Linked DNA regions of Homo sapiens. The protein of the gene in region 1 interacts with the protein of each later gene in a biochemical or structural test. Each region holds a gene or a part of one and is shown in the gene's direction. Other genes may lie near its edges.

The links.
Region 2: of the proteins of RNF4 (region 1) and MECP2, one has a biochemical effect on the other in vitro, tested with the Homo sapiens proteins (one study listed by BioGRID).
Region 3: the proteins of RNF4 (region 1) and PATZ1 form a complex in vitro, tested with the Homo sapiens proteins (one study listed by BioGRID).
Region 4: the proteins of RNF4 (region 1) and UBE2N form a complex in vitro, tested with the Homo sapiens proteins (2 studies listed by BioGRID, with this or other methods).
Region 5: of the proteins of RNF4 (region 1) and TOP2B, one has a biochemical effect on the other in vitro, tested with the Homo sapiens proteins (one study listed by BioGRID).
Region 6: the proteins of RNF4 (region 1) and UBE2E3 form a complex in vitro, tested with the Homo sapiens proteins (one study listed by BioGRID).
Region 7: the proteins of RNF4 (region 1) and UBE2E2 form a complex in vitro, tested with the Homo sapiens proteins (one study listed by BioGRID).

Annotation. Positions count from the first base shown.
Region 1 is NC_000004.12:2,475,606-2,479,105, forward strand, and holds part of RNF4 (E3 ubiquitin-protein ligase RNF4), read left to right. Parts: intron 1-3,500. UniProt on the Homo sapiens protein: E3 ubiquitin-protein ligase which binds polysumoylated chains covalently attached to proteins and mediates 'Lys-6'-, 'Lys-11'-, 'Lys-48'- and 'Lys-63'-linked polyubiquitination of those substrates and their subsequent targeting to the proteasome for degradation.
Region 2 is NC_000023.11:154,035,218-154,038,717, reverse strand, and holds part of MECP2 (methyl-CpG-binding protein 2), read left to right. Parts: intron 1-1,856; exon of another isoform or gene 1,857-3,500. UniProt on the Homo sapiens protein: Chromosomal protein that binds to methylated DNA. It can bind specifically to a single methyl-CpG pair. It is not influenced by sequences flanking the methyl-CpGs.
Region 3 is NC_000022.11:31,332,847-31,336,346, reverse strand, and holds part of PATZ1 (POZ-, AT hook-, and zinc finger-containing protein 1 isoform long C), read left to right. Parts: intron 1-483; coding exon 484-655; intron 656-930; exon of another isoform or gene 931-998; intron 999-3,500. UniProt on the Homo sapiens protein: Transcriptional regulator that plays a role in many biological processes such as embryogenesis, senescence, T-cell development or neurogenesis. Interacts with the TP53 protein to control genes that are important in proliferation and in the DNA-damage response.
Region 4 is NC_000012.12:93,405,184-93,408,065, reverse strand, and holds the end of UBE2N (ubiquitin-conjugating enzyme E2 N), read left to right. Parts: 3' UTR 1-2,382; downstream 2,383-2,882. UniProt on the Homo sapiens protein: The UBE2V1-UBE2N and UBE2V2-UBE2N heterodimers catalyze the synthesis of non-canonical 'Lys-63'-linked polyubiquitin chains. This type of polyubiquitination does not lead to protein degradation by the proteasome.
Region 5 is NC_000003.12:25,626,908-25,630,407, reverse strand, and holds part of TOP2B (DNA topoisomerase 2-beta), read left to right. Parts: coding exon 1-96; intron 97-253; coding exon 254-379; intron 380-1,262; coding exon 1,263-1,373; intron 1,374-1,455; coding exon 1,456-1,561; intron 1,562-3,111; coding exon 3,112-3,221; intron 3,222-3,500. UniProt on the Homo sapiens protein: Key decatenating enzyme that alters DNA topology by binding to two double-stranded DNA molecules, generating a double-stranded break in one of the strands, passing the intact strand through the broken strand, and religating the broken strand.
Region 6 is NC_000002.12:180,987,105-180,990,604, forward strand, and holds part of UBE2E3 (ubiquitin-conjugating enzyme E2 E3), read left to right. Parts: intron 1-233; coding exon of another isoform or gene 234-290; intron 291-3,500. UniProt on the Homo sapiens protein: Accepts ubiquitin from the E1 complex and catalyzes its covalent attachment to other proteins. In vitro catalyzes 'Lys-11'- and 'Lys-48'-, as well as 'Lys-63'-linked polyubiquitination.
Region 7 is NC_000003.12:23,587,827-23,591,326, forward strand, and holds part of UBE2E2 (ubiquitin-conjugating enzyme E2 E2), read left to right. Parts: intron 1-1,907; coding exon 1,908-2,005; 3' UTR 2,006-3,500.

The DNA of each region.
Region 1 (3,500 bases):
GGGATTACAGGCGTGAGCCACCTCGCCTGGCCCACACCTGGCTAATTTTTAACAAAGTTTTGTAGACTGGGTCTTGCCCTTTTGTCCAGGCTGGTCTCAGACTCCAGACTCATGATTTAATATCTATGGTTGAGTGATTCCCTACTTCTTACTCTCTTACAGAACCACTCTATAAGATAGTTGTTGTAGTTAGCCCCATTTTACTCTTCCTGAGGCACTGGGAGATCAGGGTCACTTGCCCAAGGTCACACAATTAGTAAGCAGAGCTCGAAACTTCACCCCACCCCTGACTCCTACCTTTGTTCCTTTTGTTAGGCTTTGTTATGTCATCTGCTTTTTTTGTGTGGTGGGAAAGCACATGGCCAATGTTTCTAGAAACTTCAAATAGTAAAAACAAAATAGTATCTTTATTTTTGCTTTCACCGCAGAGGAGTCTGATAATTATCCTCAAGAAAATTTATTGATTCTCAGTAACTGTATTGTATTCCTCAAAGTTATTTTTCCTAAGTTTTCTCCTCTCACCAGCTAAGGGAAGTTGTCCTAGGGCCTAGGCATTTCCCTGTCTGCCACACCTCACCTCTTACTTTAGCCAAACTACTGCTAAATTCTGCTCCTAAATATGGCAGCATTCTGTGTTACCTGCACTAAAATTTGCTTCCCTTGTAAGTACCTTCTTGATGTCTTCCAGTGTTGGTTCTCGCCTCCTACTCTTGCAAGTTGAAAAGTTGAAAATGCCTCAGGTAGAAATGTTCTCTCCTATTCTCCCATCATGATCATCTGTGTTTTTTTGTTTTTTGTTTGTTTTTTGAGACGGAGTCTTGCTCTGTCACCCAGGCTGGAGTACAGTGGCACGATCTCAGCACTGCAACCTCTGCCTCCCGGGTTCAAGCAATTCTCCTGCCTCAGCCTCCTAAGGACCTGGGATTACAGGCATGTGCCACCACGGCTGGCTAATTTTTTGTATCTTTACTAGAGATGGGGTTTCACCATGTTGGCCAGCCTGTCTCGAACTCCTGACCTTGTGATCCACCCACCTCGGCCTCCCAAAGTGCTGGGATTACAGGTGTGAGCCACCACGTCCAGCCCTTTTCTTTCTTTCTTTTTTTTTTTTTTTTAATTTAAGAGAAGGTTGTCTTCCTATGTTTCCCGGGCAGGAGTGCAGTGGCTATTTGCAGGTGCAATTATATAGCACAGTACAGCCTAAAACTTTTTTTTTTTTTTAAAGACAGAATCTTGTTCTTTCTCAACTCACTTCAACCTCCACCTCCTGGGTTCAAGTGATTCACCTGTCTCAGCCTCCCGAGTAGCTGGGATTACAGGTGGGCAGCACCACGTCTAGCTCATTTTTGTATTTTTATTAGAGACAGGGTTTCACTATGTTGGCCAGCCTGGTCTTGAACTCCTGACTTCAGGTGATCTGCCCGCCTCAGCCTCCCAAAGTGCTGGGATTATAAGCATGAGCCACCATGCCCTGCCTACAGCCTCAAACTTTAAGCTAAATTAATCCTCTTGCCTCAGTGTCCCAAGTAAATGGGAATACAGGTGCTGATATGGTTTGGCTGTGTCCCCACCCAAATCTCACATTGAATTCCTACATGTTGTGGGAGGGACCCAGTGGGAGGCAATTGAATCTTGGGGGCAGGTCTTTCCCATGCTGTTCTCATGATGGTGAATAAGTCTCAAGAGATCTGATGCTTTAGGTCGGGGGCGGTGGCTGATGCCTGTAATCCCAGCACTTTGGGAGGCCAAGGCGGGCGGATCACGAGGTTAGGAGTTCAAGATGAGTGTGGCCAACATAGTGAAACCCTGTCTCTACTAAAAATACAAAAATTAGCTGGACATGGTGGTACATGCCTGTAGTTCCAGCTACTTGGGAGGCTGAGGCAGGAGAATTGCTTGAACCCAGGAGGTGGAGATTACAGTGAGCCGAGATCATGCCACTGCACTCCAGCTTGGACAACAGAGTAGACTTAATCTAAAAAAACAAAAGAGATCTGATGCTTTTATAAGGGGGAGTTTCCCTACACAAGCTCTCTTTGCCTGCTGCCATCTATGTAAGGCATGACTTACTTGCTTCTCCTTGCCTTCCGCCATGATTGTGAAGCCTCCCCGGCCATTTGGAACTGGCTTTTGTAAACTTCTTGCTTTTGTAAATTGCCCAGTCTCAGGTATGTCTTTATTAGCATCGTGAAAACATACTGGTACAGTAAGTTGGTACCAGTAGAGTGCGATGCTGCTGAAAAGATACCTGAAAATTTGGAAACAGCTTTGCAACTGGGTAGCAGGCAGGGATTGGAACAGTTTGGAGGGCTCAGAAGAAGACAGGAAAATGTGGGAAAGTTTGGAACTCGCTAGAGACTTGTTGAATGGCTTTGACCAAAATGTTGATAAGGATATGGACAATGAAATCCAGGCTGAGATGGTCTCAGATGGAGATGAGGAACTTGTTGGGAACTGGAGCAAGGGTCACTCCTGTTATGTTTCAGCAAAGAGACTAGCCGCATTTTGCCCCTGCCCTAGAGATTTGTGGAACTTTGAACTTGAGAAAGATGATTTAGGGTATCTGGCAGAATAAATTTCTAAGCAGCAAAGCATTCAAGAGATGACTTGGGTACAGTTAAAGGCATTCAGTTTTATAAGGGAAGCAGAGCATAAAAGTTTGGAAAATTTGCAGCCTCCTGTCAATGTGCTAGAAAATAAAATTCCATTTTCTGAGGGGAAATTAAAGCCAGCTGCAGAGATTTGCATAAGTAACAGGGAGCCAAACGTTAATCCCCAAGACAGTGGGGGGAAATGTCTCCAGGGCATGTCACAGGCCTTCATGGCAGCCCCTCCCATCATAGGCCCAGATGCCCAGGAGGAAAATATGGTTTCCTGGGCTGGGCCCAGGGTTCCCCTGCTGTGTGCAGCCTAGGGGCCTGGTGCCCTGCGTTCCAGCCGTCTCAGCTGTGGCCAAAAGGGGCCAACATAGAGTAGAACTCAGGCTGTGGTTTCAGAAGGTGCAGGCCCCAAACCTTGGCAGCTTCCACATGGTGTTGAGCCTGCGAGTGCGCAGAAGTCAACAATGAGGGTTTGGGAACCTCCACTAGATTTCAGAGGATGCATGGAAACACCTGGATGCCCAGGCAGAAGTTTGCTGCAGGGGCGGGACACTCATGGAGAACCTCCGCTAGGGCAGTGTGGAAGGGAAATGTGGGGTTGGAGCCCCCAAGCAGAGTCCCTACTGGAGCACCACCTGGTAGAGCTGTGGGAAGAGGGCCACTGTCCTCCACACCCCAGAATGATAGATCCACTGACAGCTTGCCCTGTACACCTGGAAAAGCTGCAGACACTCAACACCACCCAGTGAAAACAGCCGGGAGGGAGGCTGTACTCTGCAAAGCCACAGGGGTGGAGCTGCCTAAGGCCATGGGAACTCACCTCTTGGATCAGCGTGACCTGGATGTGAGACATGGAGTCAAAGGAGATCATTTTGGAGCTTTGAGATTTGGACTGCTCTG
Region 2 (3,500 bases), on another chromosome or scaffold:
AGTTCTCCTCATAATCAAGATTGTGTGTGTGTGGGGGGTTCTGATTAGAGGGAGGATGAAGAGAGGTGTATGGGGTTTTTTTTGTTTTGTTTTCTGTTTGTTTGTTTGTTTTTGAGATGGAGTCTCACTCTGTCACCCAGGCTGGAGTGCAGTGGCACGATTTCGGTTCACTGCAACCTCTGCCTCCTGGGTTCAAGTGATTCTCCTGCCTCAGCCTCCTGAGTAACTGGGATTACAGGCATGCACCACCATGCCCAGCTAATTTTTGTATTTTTAATAGAGATGGGGTTTTCGCCATGTTGGCCAGGCTGGTCTCGAACTCCTGACCTCAGGTGATCCACCTGCCTCGGCCTCCCAAAGTGCTGGGATTATAGGCATGAGCCACCACACCTGGCAGGTTTCTTTGAAAAAGTTTGTGTTTCGGCAAACACCATAAACCCCCTGGGGGACAGCCTTGGGGAGTCACCTGGCACCCTAGCCCAGCCTCCCTCCCTTGGGTCCTGCAGTGAAGGCTTAGTGAGGGTGTGCAAATGCCCAGGTCACCCTGGGACTGGGCAGGCCCTCTGGGCTAAGGGTAAACTCATTTGGAATACCTGTTTTCTATCATTGTTTTTTATTTGTTAAATTTAAAGGGTACAAGTGCAGTTTTGTTGCGTGGATATATTGTATAGTAGTGAAGTCTGAGCTTTCAGTGTAACCATCACCTGAATAGTGGACATTGTACCCGTTAAGTAATGTCTCATCCCTCACCCCCTCCCACCCTTCCCAGTCTCTCCAGTGTCTGCCATTCCTCACTCTGTCCATGTGCACATGCTATTCAGCTCCTGCTTCTAAGTGAGAACGTACGGTATTTGACTTTCTGTGTCTGAGCTGTGTCACTGAAGACAATGGACTCCAGCTCCATCCACGTTTTTTATCATTTTTACCTGCACTCCACACCCAGCACAATCCAGGCTTCTTTGTGGGTTTTTTGAAATTTGTCTTTAATTATAAAAGTAGCAGCCAGCAAATTAACAAACACCCATGTGCCTTTCATTGCACAGAATTGAAAATCATCATACTATATTTGCTTCAAGTAATTTCCATTAGAAAGAACTAGAATATTACAGTAGAGTTAAAGACCCTTTATTTCCCATCTTCAGTGCTCTTAAAAGTTCATTTAGGGCCAGGCATGGTGGCTCACACCTATAATCCCAGCACTTTGAGAGGCCCAGGTGGGTGGATCACCTGAGGTCAGGAGTTCAAGACCAGCCTGGCCAACATGGCGAAACCCCATCTCTACTAAAAATACAAAAATTAGCTGGGCGTGGTGGTGCGCATCTGTAATCTCAGCTACTCGGGAGGCTGAGGCAGGAGAATCGCTTGAACTCAGGAGGGAGGCAGAGCCTGTATGCAGTAAGCCGAGATTGCGCCACCACACCCCAGCATGGGTGACAGAGCAAGACTCCGTCTCAAAAAAAAAAAAAAAAAAGTTCATTCATTGTACACTTAGAAATAGTTAAAAAGGTAAACTTTGTTTTGTGTGTGTGTGTATATATATATATATATATATATATATATATATATATATATATGTATTTTTTTTTGAGACATATATGTGTCTGGTTTGTTCGCCCAGGCAGGAGTGCAGTGGCATGATCAACGGCTCACTGCAGCCTCAACTTCCTAGGCTCAAGTGATCCTCCTGCCTCAGCCTCCCGAGTAGCTAGGATTACAGGCACACACCACCATGCCCAGCTAATTTTTTTTTTTTTTTTTTTTTTTTGTAGAGACAGGGTTTTGCTATGTTGCCCAGGCTGGTCTCAAACTCCTGAGCTCAAGCGATCCACCTGCCTCACCTCCCAAAGTGCTGGGATTACAAGTGTAAGCCACCACACCTGACCTGTTTTGTATATTTTACCACAATAAAAAGCCTTTAAAACCCCAAGCAGACAGTTCATTTTCATTCAGGCCCAACTCAGAATCTGATCACAGCGGGGTTTCCCCCCTTTCTAGCGAGTAGCTGAAGAACTGTTTTCTCTCCTTGATGGTATAACTGTCTCTGTGGGTGTTGCTCCCCTGCCGCTCCAGTGGTTTTGTTTTTGTTTTTGTTTTTTTGAGACGGAGTCTTGCGATCTCAGCTCACTGCGACCTCTGCCTCCTGGGTTCAGGCGATTCTTCTCCCTCAGCCTTCCATGTAGCTGGGACTTACAGGCACCTGCCACCACGCCCGGCTCATTTTTGTATTTTTAGTAGAGACGGAGTTTCACCATGTTGGCCAGGTTGGGCTCGAACTCCAGACCTCAGGTGATCCACCTGCCTCAGCCTCCCACAGTGCTGGGATTACAGGTGAGAGCCACTGCACCCAGCCGGCCCCTCAGTCTTTTCCTTCTCAATCAGTGGCACCACCATCTTCCCAGGCTTTGGACATGGTCCCTGACTCACCCTTGCCCCTCACCCCCACACTAATCCACCTGCGAGCTCTGTTGCTTCACCACCTAGACCAGCCCCAAATCCTCAACTGCCCCCACCCTGGGCCACACCTGGACCACTGCTAGAGGCCTCTCATGGGCCCTCCCTGTTTTTCTCTTGCACTCCCCGGGCTTTCTGGCACAAGATGCCCCAGAAGCAGAATCACATATCTCTCCTGGGAGCCAATCTAGTGTGTTTACTGCCCCTGGAGTGTTATTGTTGGCCTTAGAATATGTCCCACTACAGGTTTGCAGAGCACTGTAGTCAAAAGTCATTTGAAATAAATCTTTTCTCTGTGGTATATTGTCAATTTGATATAGAATTAAATTTGTTTCTTTTCTTTTTTCTTTTCTTTTTTTTTTTTTTTAAGAGACAGGGTCTTGGCCAGGCGTGGTGTCTCATGCCTGTAATCCCGGCACTTTGGGAAGCCAAGGTGGGTGGATCGCCTGAGGTCAGGAATTCAAGACCAACCTGGCCAGCATGGTGAAACCCCGTCTCTGCTAAAAATACAAAAATTAGCCGGGCGTGATGGCAGGTACCTGTAATCCCAGCTACTCGGGAAGCTGAGGCAGGAGAAGGCTTGAACTCAGGAGTCGGAGGTTGCAGTGAGCCAAGATCACGCCATGGCACTCTAGCAAGACTCTGTCTCAAAAAAAAAAAAAGAGAGAGAGAGAGACAGGGTCTTGCTCTGTCACTCAGGCTGGAGTGCAGTGATGTAGTCATGGCTCACTGCAGCCTCATACTCCTGACCTCAGGTGATCGACCCGCCTCGGCCTCCCAAAGTGCTGGGATCGTAGGCTGAAGCCACCATGCCTGGCCCGAACTCATTTGTTTTTATTTGCATTAAGTGTAATAAGGTTTTGTTACTTTTAGTTTGAATTTTATTTTGGGTAATATAAACATTTACATGATTCAGAAGTCAGAATTACACTGAGGCATGTTCAGCTAGGCCTCACTCCTGTGCCTGTACCCTTACCTTTTTCCCCCTACCCCATGCAGGGAATCAATTTCATTAGTTCCTGGTGTGTCCTTCCTTAATACCCCCCCTT
Region 3 (3,500 bases), on another chromosome or scaffold:
ACTTTTGAATAAAATGAACAAATATAATTCTTTGTATAAAACTAGGGGAAACCCAGGGATACAGAACAGGAAGGCTGGTTTATATGCCAATAACTCATCTGTAAATTCATGTAAATGTAATTCTGTGCATTATAGCTAATGCACCTAAAGTCAATTCTTAATGTCTAAGGATGAGCAAATGTGTAACTCTTCATTGTGTAGAGGGGTATAGAGCTTAGCTTGCCATGTCCTGGGTACATTTCCAGTAGTCATTTAGTTAGTACCAGTGATTCCCACTCAAGTGTCCCGTAAGGAGGTACCATGGGAAATAAGAGCAGCCTCTTGGCATTCTGGGTAGGGAGCCTGAGCCAAACTCTAAAGCTGTCTTTATAAAGGGAGGTCATGTGATGGCCAGAAATTGCCTTTGCTTCATGGTGCACTTGGTGGGGAGTCAGGTGTGGGGTGCTGGGTTTCACATCATCCCATTTTCTTTTCTGCCTTCAGACCTGCAATGCTTCTTTTGCCACCCGAGACCGTCTGCGCTCCCACCTGGCCTGTCATGAAGACAAGGTGCCCTGCCAGGTGTGTGGGAAGTACTTGCGGGCAGCATACATGGCAGACCACCTGAAGAAGCACAGCGAGGGGCCCAGCAACTTCTGCAGTATCTGTAACCGAGGTAATCTGCCCACTGTTTCCTCACTTCCAGAGGATGGGCCTGAGCGTGTATGGGAGGCCTAGGGGTGTCTCAATCACCCTGCCTCAGACTCCACTCTTTGCACAGCCACCCCCTACTTCCCACTGAATGATAAACACCTTCATCACCCAACTAGCTATTTGCTACCTCTTCCTTCCCAAGAAGCTTGGGGTGCTTAGAATGGGAAGTCCCAGGAGACCAGCAGGTCAAAACAGAAGGAGAGAGGTTCTTCCCAAGCTTGGGCCCATAACTCTCACCTGCTACTCAGATGGCAGGATGGATGCATTTTGCAGACACCACTGAACCACTGAGGTTGGTGGGGGAGTTAGTAGGTCCCAAAGTGAGAGAAAAAGAGGTTGGTCCGGCTTGAGAGCTTTTGCTGGTTGATTCACTGGCATATGAAATTCAGCAGCCAGGGAAGGAGGTTGAGTCTGGAGATAAACAAGGAGCAGACACTTTGTAGCACAAGTAGTCAGAAGAGAGCCCAAACTCAGGTAGATTGTGGCCTTGAGAGAGGAAAGTGGAAGGTGCTCTGAGCAGGGCAGCATGCTTGAGGACAAGGTGGGCCTAAGTAGTGTCTAACTCTGTGGCAGTGGTGTTGTGTTGGGTGAAGTCAAGCCTGTCCCCAAGGTTCTGCCGGGTCTAGTTGGCTGTTGGAAGTGCTAGATGTTTGTGTTTTGCAAGCACAGCATCAGTGGAGGCTTGCACTGTGTCTGTGCTAAAGGAGGTTGGAGCAGCTATCTGTGAACGTGAGGATGCTTCTGCATGGTGTGCTTTGCTTTGGCCAGTGGGGAGCACTGGGATGTCCTTATCTCCTGGGGCATTCTTGCTTGTCCCAATGCTTCCGAAAGCCTGCTTAGTGGGTGCAGCACTGAACCAGGAGTCAAGAGACCCAGGGTTTAGTCCCAGCCTCTCACTAGGTGGCCTCGAGTTCTCCCATTCCCTCTCTAAGCTTGAGTTTCTTCATCTCTCAAATGGGGTTAAGAATAGCCCCCTTTCCCACCTCACAGGGCTGTTATGAGGATCCCAGGAGACAAGGTAGGTGAAAGGAGCCGCACACTTGGGAGACTCTATCCTTGCACTTTGTAACAATGTTGGGAAAGACATGCTTGTTGACACTCTGGGTTGGACCAGGCACAACACTCCTGCAGGCCTTGGCGGAATCGTTGGGTGCCTGTGCTGTGTTCATGTGCCGAGGTCCACGGTGGAAGGAGATTGCTGAGTAGCTGGGTGTTCTTGGTGTCCTGGAACTGGGTCCCTCCTTGCAGCTTCATACCTGGGGTTTGTACCACCAGGACACCTGCTGTGAAAGCAGGGAAGTAGTAGTGAAGGTCTCTTAAGCTGTCTGTTCTGTTTTCTGACATGTCATTAGAGCCCATTGCTGACAGGAGCTTCCTCCAGGTTGCAAGCGGTGGGCTTGCGCATGCAGGGAGAGTTATCAGGCTGTGGCTGACTGTCTTGACTGGGGCTTCCCCAGCCCTAGAAATAATGTCGTTTCTTGTCTTGCTTCATCCTAACCTGGCTTCCTGACAGCTCCCCCGGATAACTCAAAACCTGCTGTAACAAGCTGTTAGCAGGCATTTTGTCAAGTTTTCAATATGGAAGTTCCCAGTCTGAGAACTGGGGTCAGAGACCAGAGGTTGAAAACTGCTGAGTGGAGAAGGGTGCTCATGATAAAACTCAGAAAGCCCAGACCAGATGGTGGAGTAGGGCAGAAACTGGACAGGAGACCCAGGGCTACAGCCCTTGAAGCCCAGCTCAGGAGGAGAGAAAAACTGAGAGCAGCAGGGACAGTGGGAAAGTTGGCCCAGTAAGGAAGCAGCTGATGTGGCAAAGCCAACAACTATTGTACATCAGGATTTATTTTCCAAGGGCTAGTAAAGAGAACTTGGGCAACAGCCATAAGCTACATGACCGGAATGGAGAATCCAGAAGAGTAAACCAGAGTCTACTTTTTCTCAGAAAAGCCAAGACTGGGTCTGGATCACAGGCCAAACATCTCTGGGTTCCAGAGCCAGAGCGGGAAGTCCCTTTCCTGCAAGAAGACTAAAGAAGGTGCTGGTCCAACCCATGCTGGGTACTCAGAAAGAAGAGAAAACAATTGCAGTTTTTATCAGAAGAGAAGGAGCAGGATTCTACTCCTGGACTCATTCCTTGGGCAGAAATAGGAAGAGACAAAAAAAAAAAAAAAAAAAAAGGAAGAGGATAAAGTTCTTTCTGAGCACCAAAAACATTGAGACATTGGAATCAAAATGCAGAGAGCTCTGTGTCCTCCTTTGCCCTGCTGCCACCAAGCCTGTACCTACAGGAGGGGTTGCACGAATAAACGAATGTTCTTATCTCTGCATGTGTTCAAACAAAGGCTGAATGTCAGAACAGTTAAGATTGAATCAGGTGAACTTCCAGGTGCCCTCAGATCCTTCAATCCCAACAATTCTTAAATAGTTGACTTAAGTATCTACCTATAGATCTGTCTTTTTCAATTTTTGCCACAAAAATGACTCCTGGCTGTGAAGAATGGCAAAGAGGAAAGGCAGCCTGACTCCTGCAGCCTCACACGTGAGTCAGATGCAAGTTGAAGAGACAGATGACTCTGGCTTTGTCATACAGACATATCAGGATGTGTATGATACTATTTGTACAGGAAGATCATTTGCAGTGGAGGGAGTATTATGGCTAGAAAAGCTTGTTCCCACATTTTTGAGTTGAGGAAATCAGTTGAGTTGAACAGTGGAAAAGGGAGAAGGCCCTGGCTGATCACCATGATTTTCTTCCTTTAAAGTTTCTGTAGCAGGATCTTTGTATATATGCCTATGTGCTGGTATGG
Region 4 (2,882 bases), on another chromosome or scaffold:
AACCATGAAATTCCAGATTTAAATCTGTTGCACTACAAAAATGTCTAAATGATGTCTGCTAAATTTGTGAGTTATAGAAGTACAGAAATAAGTCATTTTCATTTCAAATGCAGTGAATTTCTAATTTCATGGTATCATATTTTTTTCCTTTGCAGTTTTGGTAAGACTCCCCCATTACTTTGCTAAGACTTGCTTTCTCAACCAGTGGGATGAAACGAGTGCCAGTGTGTTGACTGAGCCTTCTTAGGACTTAAGGGGCTCTGGGAGAGGCCAAGGCAGCAGTTGAAAACTGCAGCTTCACCTGGCCTTTGGGCCTGTTTTCCCTGGCCCACACAGTGTGGCTGGTTAAAACATTCTGAATTTGATGCCAACATTTTTAAAAATTGGGAGATTTGCATGAAAATCCAGAATTCGGGTAACTTTTGAATGATCTGAAGATCTGGCAACAGTAGACCTGACCCACCTTTGTGCACGGGACTTAACTGAGAGGATCTGAGTAGCAGACACCCTAAGAGCATGTCATTGTCTTCTCACCAGTTACTCTCCAGTTGGCTAGAGTCCCCTCCGAGCACACCTGCTAGTCCTTCCCCCTTGTAAGCCTTTGACTTTGTAATCCCTGGGCTAAAGGAAACACATTATTCAACAAAAGTGTTTCATGTTTGCCCACTAGTTGTTGGGGATGATTAGGTGGTGAGTGAATGGCATGGGGCTTTCCTTTGGGGACCATATACTCTAATGGGGAAGGGGGACAGACAAATAGTTGTAACTCTGTCATGGAAAAGAGAAGTAACTTGGACAGACTTTTGGATTCAGGCCAGATGAACATCTCCAGGCAGAGGGAACAGCAGCATCTGCAAAGTCCTGGGAGAGAAGAAAAGAATCTGAACATTAAGTGGCTTCCTGAAAATCGACTGCCCAGGCCGGGCACAGTGGCTCATGCCTGTAATCCCAGCACTTTAGGAGGCCAAGGCAGGAGGATCACTTGAGTCCAGGAGTTTGTGACCAGCCTGGCTAACATAGTGGGACCCAGTCTTTATTTAAAAGAAAATTGCCCGTTAAGAGGCTTTTCTAAAATCTTGAGGTGTTGATAGGAGCTTTATGTTTTTTGACTTGATTGTTGTAGTCTACTTCGCTGCGATTTGCTTCTGCTCTAGTTATCCTTCATCCTCTCAAAGGCTGTCTAGCAAGATCTTAGGTCTAAAGTAAAGTCATCTCTTGGTATTTGTCGGGAACTGGTTCTAGGACTTCCTTTGGATATCCAAATTCGCAGATGCTCAAGTCTCTGGAATAAAATGATGTTGTATATGCATACAATCTACACAAATCCTCCCGCTTATGTTAATATTTAGATTACTTATAATACCTATTATAATGTAAGTGCTATGTAAATAGTTACACTATTGTTTAAGGAATAATGACAAAAATATACATGTTGACTACAGACACAATGTTTTTTGGAATATTTTGTCTGGTTGTTTGAATCCACGGAAGTGGAACCCATGGATATGGAGGGCCAACTATATAGAACCTTACTCTAGACCAAGAATGTACTTGTAAAACAATTTCAAAGAAGCACTTAAAAATAAGATTAAATACAAACCAACAGATAAAAGTCACAGGTGCTATGGTTGTTTGATGGAGAATGGGGAAGGAAATCTGTCCTAAAAGACATTATAAACACAGTGACCTAAGTGGAACTAAATTGGATCGAGGAAATGATAGGAATAGGCCTCATTTTTCTGTTGAATGGTTCAGGAACCTTTTTTTTTTTTTTTTTTTTTTTTTTTTTTGGCTGCTCTAGCCACTTTCTAGCTCTGTAGTTTAGGCTGGAGTGCTGTGGCATGATCTTGGCTCACTGCAGGTTCTGCCTCCCGCGTTCAAGCGATTCTCCTGCCTCAGCCTCCTGAGGAGCTGGGACTACAGACACCTGCCACCACACCTGGCTAATTTTTTGTATTTTTAGTAGAGACGGGGTTTCACCATGTTGGGCCAGGATGGTCTCCATCTCCTGACCTCGTGATCTGCCCGCCTCGGCCTCCCAAAGTGCTGGGATTACAGGCGTGAGCCACCGTGCCCAGCCCTGCCACATCTTTTTTGTTAGTTGCAGTAGCAATACAACCTTATCTAGAAAAGCTGGCCAAAAAAGAAAATACCATGATAATAGGGTACCTAATTTATTGCTTTATTTAAGAAAAATGTAATATTTCATTCGAATAAGTACTTTTGGGCTGGGATGATATTTCATTTAGCTACTTGGCATGCCACCCATCTTAGGGAATTATATGAGGGTTTATACTTTAAATAACATAAAAAGCAAAACATGCTGAATGTAATAATTTGAGAGAAGTGTAAATAATAAAAATCTGTCATCTACCACCTGGACTAGTAATATATTGTTTGTTTTCTTAACTATACACTCACCCCTGCACTCATCTCCATTTTATCGTGGAAGTCAGGTATATTCCAAGAGTTGGCTTTATGGTACTAACTTGCCATTAGCTGCCATGCTGGGAGCTGGACTAAAATTTTTCCTCTTGTGTGGAATCCAATATTAAGAGTTCGGGTCTCCCCGGCCCTCTCCCAGTTTCATCTTGTCACCCTTGAGCTGATCTCATTTCATGTGTCTTGTATGGCCCTGCTGGGTGGCACTGGTAAGTGTATGAACATAGACTTGATACCAACCTCTGTCTCTACTACTGAATTGATCACATGATTTTTCTTTCTCAGTTTTATTTTTAAAGACTCCTGATCCATCTTACCATATGACTGCTTTTGAAATAGTTCCATGATGTAGATTAGTAAATATCGATAGTTCTTAAGTTTTATTATAACCTAGTAAGTTTACAAAGTCTCCTGGCTTAAGGTCGGGAGTAGATATCAGA
Region 5 (3,500 bases), on another chromosome or scaffold:
GCTGTGTCTGGATTAGGTGTGATTGGACGAGACAGATACGGAGTTTTTCCACTCAGGGGCAAAATTCTTAATGTACGGGAAGCTTCTCATAAACAGGTATGTATGTGTGTGTATATATATGTGTATACACACATGCACACATACATATGACATTTCTAATACTTTACTAAACTTCTCGAATTTTTAAATGTAATTTCTGACTCGTATATTTCAACACTTCAAACTACTCTCAGTGCTTTTCCTTTTTGAACAGATCATGGAAAATGCTGAAATAAATAATATTATTAAAATAGTTGGTCTACAATATAAGAAAAGTTACGATGATGCAGAATCTCTGAAAACCTTACGCTATGGAAAGATTATGATTATGACCGATCAGGTTGGTTTTAAAGTTACCACATATTTCAAATTCATGTCTTCTTCAGATTCTCCCTTTAATATTTGTTTTATGAGACTTGCCCGAAGATGGTATAACTGAAAGTGATTATACATCAGGAGGAAAAAATGAAAAAACCACGTCATTTAGTGGAAACATTTTTATGAAGCACATTTTACATTGTCTGATTTTTGGGGTAACTAAGGAGAATATAATACAGTGTGGTACTATAGCAGCCTACCTACAAGTAGGAACAAAATTATGGAATTAACAAGTAAGAAAGATTAATGATAAGGGTTAATATTTATACATGATGGCATGATTTGGAATGCACAAATACCAGGACTTAAATAGTAAAATGATGGTAATCGAGAAAGAACTAGAAAATTGAAAAGGAAGAATTTCAGATGCATTCAACTGTTTTCTCTTATGCACTCTAAAGTATTTGTAGAGAAAATCTGCAACTGAAAAAACTGCTATTAATATATAGTTTTAAGCAGAAATTTTCCAATTTTTTATCTAGGGAAGACTTGTGAATATCTGTATTACCTGGGTTTCCCTACCATTGCCCATTAAGGTGGCATTATAACCATGTTTTATTTTATGTATTTTCTATCCTTAAATCATTCTTTTAGTGAAATCTGGGGAAACTATAAAACAGATAAAATGATAATATATTTTTATAATGACAGATTCAGTCTATTACTACTATATTCTTTATTTGTGTATTAAAAAATTTAGTATGATCATCTTAATAGCTTTTGTAAAATGCATTTCTAAAATTCAGAATTTTGGTTTTTTGCATTCACGTTTTAAAATTTGTTTATATAAGTAATCATTTTATAAAAGTATTACAACATTTTTTACTTTACTAACATTTATTTAGGATCAAGATGGTTCTCACATAAAAGGCCTGCTTATTAATTTCATCCATCACAATTGGCCATCACTTTTGAAGCATGGTTTTCTTGAAGAGTTCATTACTCCTATTGTAAAGGTACTCTTTGCATTAATATATTTTTATATTGTTGTCTTAAAGGGTAGCAGAAAAACTAATTTTGTTTTTTAATTAATTTAAGGCAAGCAAAAATAAGCAGGAACTTTCCTTCTACAGTATTCCTGAATTTGACGAATGGAAAAAACATATAGAAAACCAGAAAGCCTGGAAAATAAAGTACTATAAAGGTTTGTATTTTAAAATACTTAGATTTTAAATACTGATATAAATGTATTCTTATGAAAGCAATCTAAAAGATGACTTGAAAGTTTGACTATTTTAGACTTCGAAAATAGCTATCACTGATTTTAAAGTATTGTTATAGAAAAATGTATGCAAGTAGAATAGTGTAATAGATTTCATTGAATGGGATCACCATTTCAATGGCTAGTCTTGTTTCCTGTAAACCTCCTTTATTGCCACTCCATTAGTTTGAAAAAACTTCCAGACATTATAGTCTAGTATTTCACCTATAACTACTTCAGTATGTATTTCTGAAAGAATTTTTTTAAGTAACCCATAATACCATTATCATAACCTTCTTTAATATCCTATTGTTGAGACAGGGTCTTGCTTTGTCACCCAGGCTGGAGTGCAGTAGCATGAACACAGCTCACTGCCGCCTTGACTTTCCGGGCTCAAATGATCCTCTTGCCTCAGCCCCCGCAAGTAGCTGGGACTACAGGTGTGTGCCACCACACCCAGCTAATTTTTGTATTTTTGTAGAGATGGGGTTTTGGTTTGTTGCCCAGGCTGGTCTTGGACTCCTGAGTTCAAGCCATCCACCCACCTTGGCCTCCCAAAGTATTGGGATTACAGGTGTGAGCCACCATGCCTGGCTCCCTTTTTTTTTTTTTTTTTTTAAATAATGTTAAATACCCAGCCAGTGTTAAAATTCCCCTGGACTGTATTAAAATTGTTTATTTTTAGAGTTTTTTATTTTTATTTTTATTTCGTTTTTTTTTAATTGTTTTTATTTTTTTGAGATAGAGTCTTGCTCTGTTGCCCAGGCTGGAGTGCAGTGGTGGGATCTCGGCTCTCTTCCTCATGTGTTCAAGTGATTCTCATGCTTCAGCCACCCAAGTAGCTGAGATTACAGGCATGTGCCACTATGCCTGGCTATTTGTAGTATGGGTGGGGTTTTGCTGTGTTGGCCAGGGTGGTCTAGAAGTCCCGGCCTTAAGTGATCCGCCCACCTCAGCCTCCCAAAGTGCTGGGATTACAGGCATGAGCCACCATGCTTGGCCTGAGTTTGTTTGTTTTTTTCCAAAGTCAGGATCCAAGTAAGGTCCACACATTGCATTTGGTTGATAAGTTTATTAATATAGCATTTCTCTTTTTATATTTTTTCCTTGTAATTTATTTGTTAAAGAAGTTGGGTTGTTTGTTCTGTGTAATATTCCACATTCTGGATTTTGTTAATTATATTCCTCTAGTTACATTTAATATATAGTATTTTCCTTTGCCCTTATTTTCTGTTAACTGATGGTTAAATCAGAGGCGTGATCAGATTTGGGTTACATTTGTTTGGCAAAAACATTTCATAGGTAGCGTTGTGTGCTTTCATCAGGAAGCATCTAATGTCTACTTTGTCTTTAGTTGCTTATTAAGATTGATCACTTAGTATAGGTGTTGCCAGCTTGATCCATCTATTACAACTTTTCCACCAGCTTTTTACTTGATGGTTTTAAACAGACATTGATATTCATGACTCACTTTTATTTTTAAAATTGTGCAGGATTGGGTACTAGTACAGCTAAAGAAGCAAAGGAATATTTTGCTGATATGGAAAGGCATCGCATCTTGTTTAGATATGCTGGTCCTGAAGATGATGCTGCCATTACCTTGGTAATTAAGTTAATTTTTTAAAAGCTTTTGTTAGCCATCCCCCTACCTTCTATTCCTTTCCTCCCAGTCCTGGTTCCCTATGATAAGTCTCTTTTGAATGCTCAAGCTAGTTAATTTTAATTTTTCCCCCAGATGATGCTGTGCTTGTATAAACTTCTTTAATTGAAAGACCTTAGTTTAAATGTGTTTTTGATTAAAATATTGTAAAATAACCTAATTTTCCAGAAATTAAGAATTAGTTATTGGCCACTTATACATTTTAATTTTGTAATAAAATTT
Region 6 (3,500 bases), on another chromosome or scaffold:
AAATGGTTTTAGGTATTGGAGGGCCATGGGCCATAGTGTACTAAACATAGGGATATGTTTATTTATTGGTTTCAGTTTATGCTGTTTACATAAAGTATAAATAATTTATACATCAATGAGAGTCAAGGGAAATTGTGTTATGGGCATTTCCCTATTTGTATTTATTGAGAATTGTTGACTAGAATTGTTTAGTGATGTGTTATTAAGACATTTACTTTCCATCTGTTTCCCAGAGGGTGTCCTTGTCCTCTCCTAGTCACCACTTGTGCAAACAGCGAAAGTTTAGAAAGGTACTGGATTTCTAACTTAACCCCTAATTTCTTTCCATATAGGAAGAAGCACAAATATACTGACGAATATTTTAAGAGTGTATGTTCAGATTGAATCTATACTGGAGATATTTGGGGGTATTTGTATTAATAAATAGTTTCTTGATGTGGGAAAGGCCATATTGGGGGATATGTATTACAGTTTCAAGTTAATAGTATTAATATATTGACTAGCAAAACCTGAGATCAGGTGATTTCGTTGACTTTCTTCTTTAAAAATAAAAAAATAATGAAATCATAAAAGAAGCAGTTGTTTCTAAACCAGTAGTTGATAATCTCTAGATTCCTCATTAGCCTAATTGTCTGAGGATAAATTCTGCTTTCTTCTGAGGGTTGCTACCACTTTCCATCATTTTCTAGGGCGGACTAGAACTTTGCTACTTAAAAGAGTGAGCTGCTGACTGTCAGCATCTGCGTCACAGATGAGGTTGTTAGAAATGCAGACTCTTGCTTCCCCCAACCCCCAACCCAGAATTTGAATTTAACAAGATTCCTGGTGAATTGTATATATAAGTAGGTTTGAAAAGTGCTGGTACTGGAGCAAGACTGTCTGGTTTCAGATCCATGCTCTGTCACTAACTTGCTATGTTATTACCTTAGATACATTTTGGAATATTTCGGTTCTTCTCCTCAGTTGTAAAGTGGGGATTAAAATGATACCCCCCTTTATAATAGGGTTATTGTGAGGATTAAATGACTTAATGTGTTTAAGTTTTGTAGCAGTGTAAATCGAGTCAGTAAAGTGGCCACAGCAAGATAAAAATGGGAGAGACAGTGTAGCCTGTAGTGATGTGCTCTCACTGTTGCTGGCATTTTCTCTAGTGCATTGACATCTTATGTAATTTTATCTTAGTCAGTTCACCAGATAATTGAGTACAAGTACATAACAAGCAATTTGTTTTTTAATGTCAGTAAAAGCAGTTCCTAGGAACTTGCGTAAAAAAGAAAATTAGCCTAAAAACTTCAGGCATAGATGAACAAATATTGTATTCCTTTTAAAGGAACATGCATAAGATTAATGATATTTAATTCAATAGAGAATATTATGATTGTCCAGTAAAGTATAATAAACAATTTTTAGATGAGTAATGATTATATTTTCCCCTTTTAAAATAGAAGAATTTGTGATTTTACTGTGAATGGGATTATATCAGCAGTTGTAAAATTCACATTCTGGATTGCTGTTACCTGCATTACCTAACCCCATAGCATTCTTTCCATGTCTGTGAACTAAGGAGAAATTTTGAAAGCTTTTTTCTAATTGGCGTATGAAAGCAGGTAATAATTGAAATAACATGTGATCCCTATATTAGCTTTGTTGGTTGCTTATAGAGTACTTGGTTTTAAACTCTCTCACACATGTAGATAGACTGCTTTTTCTTCTTTACTTAATACATTTGATTGTTTTTGTTTTAGTGTTTGCTACAAGATTGTATCTCATTAGTTATCTAGTCCTTTTATTTTCAATTCTTCAAAAAAAAAGGTCCTGGAACCCGCTTTTTATAAAAATTAAATCTTAATTGGAAGCTCGACTGTAAAACAGATAAATACAGAACTACTCTGACAAAGTATTTTTCATCCCATTATGCCGTGGGTGGTCATCTACAGATAGTTTGTATTATTAGTTTTATTGTTAATAAATTCATTTTGGCATCAGCATAAACCTCAAAAATCATGAGGGTTTTTCTGGGGACTTGGGCGTTAGTGATAATTTTAAATGGTTTATGATCAAAGCAAATTGACGTTTTATTTTTCAACAAGCTAATAGTTTCTTCAACACAACTGTAATAAAGTACTTTTTTCATGCTGTATTATAATATTTGTCTGCTTTCTGCAAGAGCGAGTGTTCCTTGAATGGAGAGATTGTCTCATTCATTTTTGTATCTTTTCCTTACTTCACATGGTGCTTTGCATGTGAAGGTCTGTTAATAAATAAATTGAAGTCTCTCAAATTGACATAGAAATAGCAATTCCAGGCAAAACAATGACTTCAGAGAAAATTTATTAAATATCCTATACATTCTTTACCTTTTTCATAATTATGATACTTAATATTTAATAACCTATTCAAAGTTTACCTAGCTACTGTTTTTGCTTATAAGAGGAAATTGATACTCACAGTAGGCCTAGTTATTTCCTCCATACGTGCCAGTGTAGCAGAAATACTCAGTACTCTGTGTGACTGGAAACATTTTCCAAAAGAGTGACCAACTGAAAATAATATTCTTCCCACTAAACTTCACATTTTTATTAAGGATCTATTAAGTTCAATGCAGATAATGTAATTAGAAGGTGGGTAAAACAGCATGTGCTTTTAAAAAAAGTTATATGTTTACTTCGCAGCTACATGCTCACATAACCAGTCATATTCCTCTCATAACCAATTAGTACTTTATGCTCTCCTTAAATGAGTTGCTGTAACAACAGATGGATATGTTTACTTTTCAGGAAAATCAGCAAGTCTTGCATAGAGTGTAAGGACATTCAGATTGAGAATGAAGAACTTGTCCTTTCAGTCTCTTCTTCCCTATCAATATGAGATAAAAACATAATAAAATCACTTGTAAATCTAGAGAAATAGAAAGTGATTTTTTTTTCCACATACCAATTTTGACAGGTAAGTATATTTGGGCATTTTAATTGGAATCTGGAAGCTGAAACATCTTCAAACTTTTAACCTTTCTTTTGCCTTTTGATCAGTGGTTCTCAACTGAGGCAATTTTTGTCCTCCCCTTCCCCAGCCACCAGGCTAGGCGACAATTGGTAATGCCCAGAGATATTTTTTGCTTTTCATAACTGAAGGAGAAGGGGGCTACCACTGACATTAGTAGGTAGACGTCAGTGGTACTGCTGAATACCCTGTAATACATAGGACAGACCCCCACAATAAAGAATTATCTGGGCCAAAATGTCTAGTGCTGAAGTTGAGAGACCCTCCTATAGATATTTGTTCCTGTACTTTGCCTCTTGAATTTTTGAATAGTTTGCTTTTGACTGTTTTCCTGTCTTATTAGTGATGCATCCTTAATATATTCACCTACACCTTCCTCAGCTGATTCTTCACTTCCTGCTACTTCTATGCGTAGTTTACATATGTCTTATATTATTTGTCATACGTGTGTGTTATTTTTTATGTGAAACCACAGGAATGACTACCTTGAGTACTTGCTA
Region 7 (3,500 bases), on another chromosome or scaffold:
GAAAATGAAGAAGAATCACAAAGAGTAGGCAGAGAGGCAAACGTTTCGAACAAACCCACATACTAAGTAGTCTACTAATTGTGATATAAGTGAATGTAGGAAACTGGCTTCTCCCTGGAATAATTATTACGAGATTTACACAATTCCAGGAAAACTTAAGCAAGTCTTGTTGAGCAGGCTTTCAAAGGCTTTGTTATCATGAGCTTCAGCAGATAGGTTAAAAAGTGGTGTTTCTATTATACCTTTCATATTGAGAACATATGACCATGAGTGCCTTACAAGGTTAGTCTCAGGATCTTCCCAAGTTGCCGGTGGTGTTGGGCCACAGACGTAGTTCCATATTCTCTACTATTTTTTTCCTACCAAACATTAGCTTTTGATGATTTTTCTCATTTTCCCTAGTGGATCCTCCTTACCTGACTGCTCTAATATACCCAAATTCCCAATACCAAAAATAGGGGAAATATAAATCGGGGAAAGAGTGAAATTAGAGAATTGGAGGGAAAAGAGTAGAATCTGGGATCTTTAGGAACCTAAGTTACTTTTTTTTTAATTGCTTTGCTTTTTGTTTTTTTGTTTTTTTGTTTTTTTTTTTTTGTCTTTTTTTTTAAAGAGGGTCTCACTCTGTCACCCAGGCTGGTATGTGGTGGCACGATCATAGCTCACTACAGACTCAAACTCCTGGACTCAAGCGATCCTGCTGCCTCAGCCTCTTAAAGTGCTAATATTACAAGCATGAGCCACCGTGCCCCAATTTTTTTAATTAAACGTTGACCCAATCAATATTCTGGATAGAGAGCTATCTCCCAGCACCCTGTTAAGTTAAGCACCCTGTTAACTAACAGCACCCTGTTAGTTAAGAGGGTGAACTCTGGCTCCAAGCCCTGCTCCACCCCTTTCTCCACGTTGGGCAAGAGACTCAGCCTCCTTATGCTCCAATTTCCTCCTGTGTCAGCTCCTTAGAAATCCATGTCATTAACATATTAGAGTTTTAGGACATGGTTAGTCATGGTGAGTGTTAGCTATTATTAACATCTATTAGTATTTTTGTAATAATGAGCTATGTAGGTTGGATGTTACCAAATTTTGAGGAAGAAGTGGACCATCTCTCCCCTCTTTTGACTGTCCAGCTCAGACTCTGGCGTCTCCTCAGATAAGGTAATCTGGCAGGAGAATGCCACCTGCCTGTGGTGCTAGCCTAGGGTAAGGAGTTGTCCAGACCGCCAAACGTCTTCCCAGGAGAGCTCATCAAGAGCCCATGAGTCCCCTGCCCACAGCCCACCTGCATTTTCTCCGTGAAATATCTACTTGAAGACAGGCATCTCACACCTGTAATCCCAGCACTTTGGGAGGCTGAGGCAGGAGGATAACTTGAGCCCAGGAGTTTGAGACTATCCTGGACAACATAGTGAGACCCCCAAAATTACAAAAAAAAATTTGAAAATTAGCCAGGTGTTGTTGCACACACCTGTGGTCCCAGCTACTCAGGAGGCTGAGGCAGGAGGAGGATTGCTTGATCCCAGGAGGTCAAGGCTACACTGAGCTGTGATCATGCCACTGCACTCTAGCCTGAGTGACAGAGCAACACCCTGTCTCAAAAGAAAAAAAAAAAAACCAATACGAGGGGAGCAAGGTGAGAAGTATGTGGTGGGTACAGGGAAAGAGAATAAGACTTGTCAAGAAATATGACAAGAGCTATCAGTAAAATACAGATAGGTGACTCTTGGGGCAGCTGGTGTGAAATGTAGTCTGTCAGCAGCAGGTGACTGGCTCAGCCGCAGCAATGGTGGTCCAGGTTAGAACAGCAGCTTCTCATCTCCTACCCTCCCACTCCTTGCCAGCTTTCTGAACACTTCTTCCCCCACAGTGCTGGTATTTACTGACTCCCAACTCTGCTTTCCTTGCAGCTGACCCTCTGGTGGGCAGCATCGCCACACAGTACATGACCAACAGAGCAGAGCATGACCGGATGGCCAGACAGTGGACCAAGCGGTACGCCACATAGGGGCCTGCTGCCTGCCGCCCCGCGGGACCTGTGCAAGCACATTCACCAAGTGCATCGGTAGCCCTGCCCACCCCTCCAGACCTCGGTTCTTATTTTCCTATTTTTATTAAATTTGGAACCATTTTGTGATGGTATGTTGTCCATCTTCCCATCCCAGTTCTTCCTGCCCCCCTTCCTCTCTCCCACGCTCTCTTTTATCTCTCATTTTATTCCCTTGTTGATTTCTGTTAACTTGAAAGATTTGGGATTTTTTCCCACCTCATCATAGATGGGAACTTTTGTTTTCAGTGCAAACAATGTTGGAGCTGTAATAGTAAGAGCTTTCTTACAAAGCTTTGTATTACTGTGTGGTTTTGTTTTTTTTGTTGTTGTTTATTTGATTTTGATTTTTTTTTCTTTTATGTGATCTTTGGGAAAACACATTCAGAATTATATCTCGTTTCTACTTAAATGTAGTGCTTAGGGTTAATTTTTTGTACTGAAGTCTTTATTGGTGGGTGCATGCTACTGGGAACAAGTTTTTGTACAAAAGCTTCAATCAGAATCACTGTGCATTACTGAGACTCTGTTTATCACTAGCCTTCTGTCCCTCCCGCAGAAGACTGTTGGATTGAACAAAATAATATGTATTTTGATTTACTTAAAGTGCTTGTAAATTTCTTAGGGACCTGCCACTTTTGACTGTGGATCAGTTGATGTACACTTGTATTATTAAAGCACTCAATAAATCACTGTGGCTGATAACTGCACTTCTGGTAACCCGACATTTGCTTTGTGTCCTGGTGACCGCTGTAGCCCTACGTGCAGTGAGGCTTGTCTAATTCAATTACAGGTTCAAGTGTATTTTTCATCTCAAACCTCTAATATTTCTTTGGAGTTGAGTTGCTTAGCATGTGGAATTTCTCCAGCTGTCAGTAGCCTGATGATTTTATGGTTGTTATAGTAAATTGCTATCATTTTACATATTGACTGGGCATTCTTTCTGTTACAGCCTTCTTTATCAACAATTAAAATATGTAACTCCAAAAATAGCCTTCTTGTGAAAGTGAAGTCTGAGCTAATCATTGTGTTCAGCCACTTTCAACTTTATTTCTCTCAAAATTGTTACAGTGATTGCCCTCAAGCTTTGTATTGTTCATTTTTGTTGTTGTTGTTGTTGTTGTTGCTGCTCTTTTTTCTCCATGATTTTAGCAAAAGAAGTAAACTCAACTGTATTGGTCACGGTCAGCCCATTCAATGACAAGGGTGTCTGTCTGGCTTCACCTTCAGGCTATTTTAGTGTGCAGCTATAGGAGGCAGAGGAAACGTGGGTGGTGTAGTTTCTAAAACACGCTGACTTGCTGATTGATAATTCAGGGTTATTAGTGTAACAAAGCGTAGTGGAAACTCCTACTCCTGCTGCACCATACAGTTACAGACCCTACCATACTCTTGGTCTCATTTAAGGAACCATTAACACCTTCACTGCTGAAAAGCAGGATTTATAAGCATAAGT